Linked DNA regions of Homo sapiens: region 1 is linked to region 2. The links come from fine-mapping of genetic effects on gene expression. A gene starts in region 2. The other region holds a variant in brackets. All regions are shown on one strand. Distances are between the middles of the regions.

Region 1 (2,791 bases), 21 kb before region 2:
AGCTTACTATCTGCTTGAGATGAATTCAAATATGGAGAAATAAAAACCTGGAGAAAATAACTCACTTTCTCTTCCTTTCCTTGCTTTCAATTTCCTTTACTTTCTCTAACTTAATGTGCTAGATCACGAACCTTCTTTAAATCACTTTTGGAAGTAAGTGAGGTATAAATAGACCACTAAGTTTTACCTTCCATTAGTAATTATTACCTTTTAGGAGAAAAACAAATAGATTCCCCTCAAAGCTGTGACTCCAAAAAATACCAATTCCAGCATGGCTCTAGAATTGAACTCTGTACTAATTACAAAAACAACCAGCCAAAGAAATGCTGAGGTTATGGAAGTGTTCCTCTGATGCTCTGACAAAACTTAACGACAGAACAGAACAGCTGTACGATCTGGAGCAAGTCACCAAGGCTCTCCATAAAAAGGGAACAGAGCAGTCTACTTGTCTAAAGGGATGGTGCTGGATTTTGTAACTGCAAATTTCGCAGAATTTCATGTCACAACTTATCACTTGAATGATGAAAATCTCCACACTGCTGTTATACTTTGATAGTTGTGATGGTAAAATTTCATATGCCTATGAAAATTGTAAGAAATGTTCGCAGCCAGGCGCGGTGGCTCACGCCTGTAATCCTAGCACTTTGGGAGGCCGAGGCGGGCGGATCACAAGGTCAGGAGATCGAGACCATCCTGGCTAACATGGTGAAACCCCATCTATATTAAAAACACAAAAAATTAGCCAGGCGTGGTGGCGGGCCCCTGTGGTCCCAGCTACTCGGGAGGCTGAGGCAGGAGAATGGCGCGAACCCAGGAGGCGGAGTTTGCAGTGAGCGGAGATCGTGCCACTGCACTCCAGCCTGGGCGACAGAGCGAGACTCCGTCTCAAAAAAGAATAATAATAAAATAAAATAAAATAAAAAAAAGAAATGCTCGCAAACTAATTTGACCACTGTCCATATTTCCTTGAAATGACTTGAGGAGAGATGGGATCTGAGAGCATGACGGGCCATTCCCTCTTCCCACAAGGTAGGGCCTGTCAACCAAGTTCTCGAAATCGTTTAAGACATCTCCCCTCCTCTCACTTATGCCCAACAAAAGGAGAATTAGGCCGGGAGCAGTGGCTCATGCCTGTAATCCCAGCACTTTGGGAGGCCGAGGCACGTGGATCACAATGTCAAGAGATCGAGACCATCCTGGCCAACATGGCGAAACCTCGTCTATACTAAAAATACAAAAAAAATTAGCCAGGTGTGGTGGCATGCGCCTGTAGTCCCAACTACTCGAGAGGCTAAGGCAGGAGAATCGCTTGAACCTGGGAGGCAGAGCTTGCGGTGAGCTGTGATCATGCCACTGCACTCCAGCCTGGTGACAGGGCGAGACTCCGTCTCAAAAAAAAAAGGGGGGGGG[GT/T]GAGAATCAAGAATCAGGCTACCACGGGTCTTAAATTTGGAGGAAATGTTAGAGATAGATCCTACATGAGGGATCCTGCAGCTGGAAAACCTTAAATGCAATTTGGTTCAAGTACCCATGCAAATGTGAACTTACATGGAGTCTCAGTTGTCTCTGAAAGGTAATTCACAGTGCATTTTTCTTTGGTGGGAAGTTTTTTACACCAATCATTACCATTTCTTGTTTAGATAAAGTGGATATCTGAGAAATGGTTCTAAAGGTATCAAAGGGAATAAAGTCTCTTTCCTTTTCTTAGTTCCCAGTTTTTCAAGAGGAGGCTTTCTACTAGTTAGCAGATCCCATGACTCTTTTCACAGACATTCCAGACATCTGCAATCCCACCTCTAAAATACAAAAGGACATACACACTTGACATTAGTGGCTCTCAATCCTAGGGCACACTAGAGACACCTGAGGACATTTTGAAACTAAGGCCACCCAAGTCCCTGGTATTCTTATTATTTATTTATATAATATTTTTATATAAATATATATAAATATATTATTTATTTATTTTACTTTTTTTTTTTTATAGATACCAGGTTTTACCATGTTGCCCAGGCTGGTCTCAAACTCCTGAGCTCAAGTGATCTGCCTGCCTTGGCCTCCCAAAGTGCTGGGATTATAGGTGTGAGCCACCGCGCCTGGCCCTGATATTCTGATTTACTCAACTTGAGGTAGGACATAATTTTTTAAAGCTTTCTAGATGACTCTAATGTGCATCCAGGGTTGGGAACCACTGTTCTTAAAAAATGAAAAATGGTGTGAACGCTTAAATTCAAAAAGAAAAAGGAGAGAACCATAGAGAAGGATATATTTTCAAAGAAGAAGAAGAAGGAAAAAAACCTCACAGCATGGATACTTTTATGAATAAAGTAAAGCTGACAGATGACATATGGTTTCTGATTAAATACATCTGAATTTTACTATTCATATCCCTTTTCAGGATTAATAGGATGTTAAGGTTATGATTAGATCTTCTCTTCTGCAGAATATATGGTGATAATTATCAGATTTTGCCTCAGATGGACTCATTCACCATTAGGAATTATTTACCTACTTTAAGTTGTTCATTAATAAACAGGCCAAATTATAAAAATCACCATTACCTGGCATATAATAGGTGTTCGAAGACTTGCTAAATGACTGAAGAGATCAACACTAGGTTTCCACATGAACGTCTTCTTTCAAAAACATTGACCCAAAAGGGGCAGGGAACAAGAAGAGTGTCTCACAGAATAACATCAAGAGTCACAATAATGAAAATGCCAGCAAGCACTCCTGGGGCCCTGTTCTACGGGTGTGTGTGCTCATTTCGGCCTCACAGCCCCCTCAGAAAGA
Region 2 (2,791 bases):
ACCCCATCTCTACTAAAAATACAAAAATTAGCCGGGTGTGGTTGCGCACGCCTGTAATCCCAGCTACTCGGGAGGCTGCAGCAGGAGAACTGCTTGAACCCAGGGGGCGGAGGCTGCAGTGAGCCAAGATCGTGCCACTGCACTCCAGCCTGGGCAACAGAGCGAGACTCCGTCTCAAAAAAAAAAAAAAAAAAAAAGAAAAGAAAAGAAAAAATTAGCCAGGTGTGGTGGTGAATGCCTGTAGTCCCAGCTACTAGGGAGGCTGAGGTGGGAGGACTGCTTGAGCCTGGGAGGTGGAGGCTGCTGTGAGCCGTGGTTGTGCACATCCCTCCTGGGCAACAGAACAAGACCCTGTCTCAAAAATAAATAAATGAGCTTCATAACTAGTATTATGTTGATATATATTTGAATAACATAATAATTTGGGTAAACCAAGGGTCTCATATTAGTCAAGTTTGAGAAAAACTTGCAAAACGTCTAATTAATACCTTCAACTCCTGCTGGTTTTACGAAGAAAAACATTCACCGAATACTTACTACGTGTGCAAGGACTGTGCTAGCTGCTGTAATTCATGAAGCTTGCAACTGTAATATTAGATACTTTATAAGTTACACAGAATCAGTGGGCGATCATTCACCAAGACTTCCTCTTCCTGCCTTTAGTATGTTAACATTGTTTCTGACATGTGTTTCTAAATAACTACTTGGGGGCAGAAGTCACAGCTATTTTTCCTCCGACACAATATTTGACTTCCTTCTGACACTGGGGCTTCAAGTTAGGGCTGGAGTGGACAGAGCAATTTCACAACACAGAAAACAGAATAAAGAGTCCATCACCTGAGTCTCTCAGTCGAGCAAGTTCCTGCCGACGTTTCTTTCGTTTCTCCTTCTTCAGGGCGGCCCTGTACTTTTTGTGGCTGGAAGATTAAGACATATACACGACGATCAGCGGCTACAATGCAGCGCTGCCCGAGCTCCCCGCTCCTCTGTGCCCAATGAAAGGAAATAGTTCGGGTGCTGAGGAGAGAAACCTTGCTTCCTGTATTTTAATTACAGAACAGCCATCTATCATCGCCTCATCCTCCCACTCCCAGACAGTTCTTCTCCATCCGCCAACCTGATCCTCTCCTCGCTTGCCTGAGCCACAGCCGCCCGTGCAAGTCCGGGGAGGGCACCAGAGCGCGCACCAGGAAGGAATGGAGCTGCCGCGGTGGCTCACTTAGCTTGGCCCAGCTTCTCTTTTCTTCCTGCCACCACATCCTCCATGCCCACGATCGGCCCGCTCGCCTGCTCATCTCCCCGTACGGCGCTTACCTTGGTTTCTCGGGAAACGTCATCTTCTCGGGCGCAGCCATCTTGCCGGCACCGCCCCGCCCCTCCAGGTCTGGCAGGAAAGGGCGGGCCTAAGAGTCGAGACGGGCACGCGCAGGCGCGGGTACCGAGCAACCTCCACCAGCGTGGGACTTGAAACGGAAAGCCGGAGGTACCCTTCGGCGGCTCGTCTTCCAGAACCCTGCTCAAATAAATACCTCCTTCCAGCAAAAATACTCTGGGGCTTTTACCCCGCCCTAGAAGTAATTGTCGCTTCAGCACTTGCCCAGTGCTGTATCACTGTCTCCCTCCTCGCCCTAGCAGGACGTGTTGTGGCTAGGCGGTTAAAGTCGTACTCTGCCGCTTTTCTCAGCATCCACTCATGAAGTCACATCGCGCACAGAGCTGCTCGCCCGGCTTTATTTCCGACCTGTCCAGGTTCCGCGTCCTTCCGCCGATCCACCTATCAGCGCCTCAGACAAAGCTCCAGACTTCGCTCCCTGCCAGTCACACCTGTTCTGGTCCCTTAAGCAAACCTAACTCCCAGGGCTGCAAAGCTGTTACCTCTGCCCCTGAGGAGTTTACAATCGAGGGGGCAGAGAAGAACCAATACATAATATGATGCAGGCAAAGATGAAGTTTACCTAACATAGTCCACCAAGGGATTCAGGGAGAGCTCTCTTTTTTTTCCTTTTTTCTTTTTTTTTCAGTATCACATGCGACTCAACTGCAGTATCAGGGACAGCTTTCTGATGCTAAGAGTTGAGTTTGGAAAGAAGATGCCCTTTACCCAGAAGGAGAAGGGTGGGAATGCAGTTACAGTCAGATCAGCATAAGCAAAGGCGCTGAAAGGTGAAAGTGGAATATGCTGGGAACAGCAAGAATTTTGGCAATCGAATTTATTTATTTATTCATTTCTTATATATTAGAGACAGGGTCTTGTCTTTCACCCAGGTTGGAGTGCAGTGGCGCAATCACGACTCGCTGCAGCTTCGACCTCCTGGGGTCAAGCAATCCTTCCACCTCAGCCTCCCGAGTAGCTGGGAATACAGGCGCGAGCCACCACGCCCGCCCAGCTATCCAATTTAAAGTGCAGTTCGAGGCTGGGTGCAGCGGCTCACGCCTGTAATCCCAGCACTTTGGGAGGCCTAGGCGGGTGGATCACCTGAGGTCAGGAGTTCGTCAGCCTGGCCAACATGGTGAAACCCCGTCTCTACTAAAAATACAAAATTAGCCGGGTGTGGTGGCACATGCCTGTAGTCCCAGCTACTCTGGAGGCTGAAACAGGAGAACTGCTTGAACCCAGGAGGTGGCGGCCGCAGTGAGCCGAGATGGCACCACTGCCCTCCAGCCTGGGCAACAGAGCAAGGCTCCGTCTCAAAAAAACAAAACAAAATAAAGTGCAATTCGAGAATATCAAGGAATATAGTTGTTGTGATGGGCTGGGAGGGCTAGGTTAAGGAGGGCCTGGTGTGCCATG

Direction of the effects. Alleles are on the strand shown, and positions count from the first base shown. SD is a standard deviation of normalised expression in the study named.
In carriers of allele GT in region 1, the expression in fetal neocortex of the gene that starts at base 1,367 in region 2 tends to be higher than with T alone (small effect, 0.38 SD a copy in Walker 2019).

Evidence for each region. PIP is the estimated chance that this variant, and not a neighbour inherited with it, causes the effect. A credible set is the group of variants that fine-mapping cannot tell apart.
Region 1: its variant is the best candidate, but not a certain one, in a credible set for the expression of ZRSR2 in fetal neocortex (Walker 2019, PIP 0.80).

The regions. Positions count from the first base shown.
Region 1 is chrX:15,810,044-15,812,834 of GRCh38, reverse strand. The region is part of intron 7 of ZRSR2 (zinc finger CCCH-type, RNA binding motif and serine/arginine rich 2); the gene reads right to left. Among named protein-coding and RNA genes, the nearest start is that of ZRSR2, 21 kb to the right of the region's middle. The variant GT/T (reference allele first, on the strand shown) is at 1,411.
Region 2 is chrX:15,789,060-15,791,850 of GRCh38, reverse strand. It overlaps ZRSR2 (zinc finger CCCH-type, RNA binding motif and serine/arginine rich 2), which reads right to left and starts at 1,367. Exons shown (of 11, transcript NM_005089.4): 1 at 1,315-1,367; 2 at 838-917. The coding sequence starts at 1,355. RefSeq lists enhancers at 1-381, 1,040-1,489.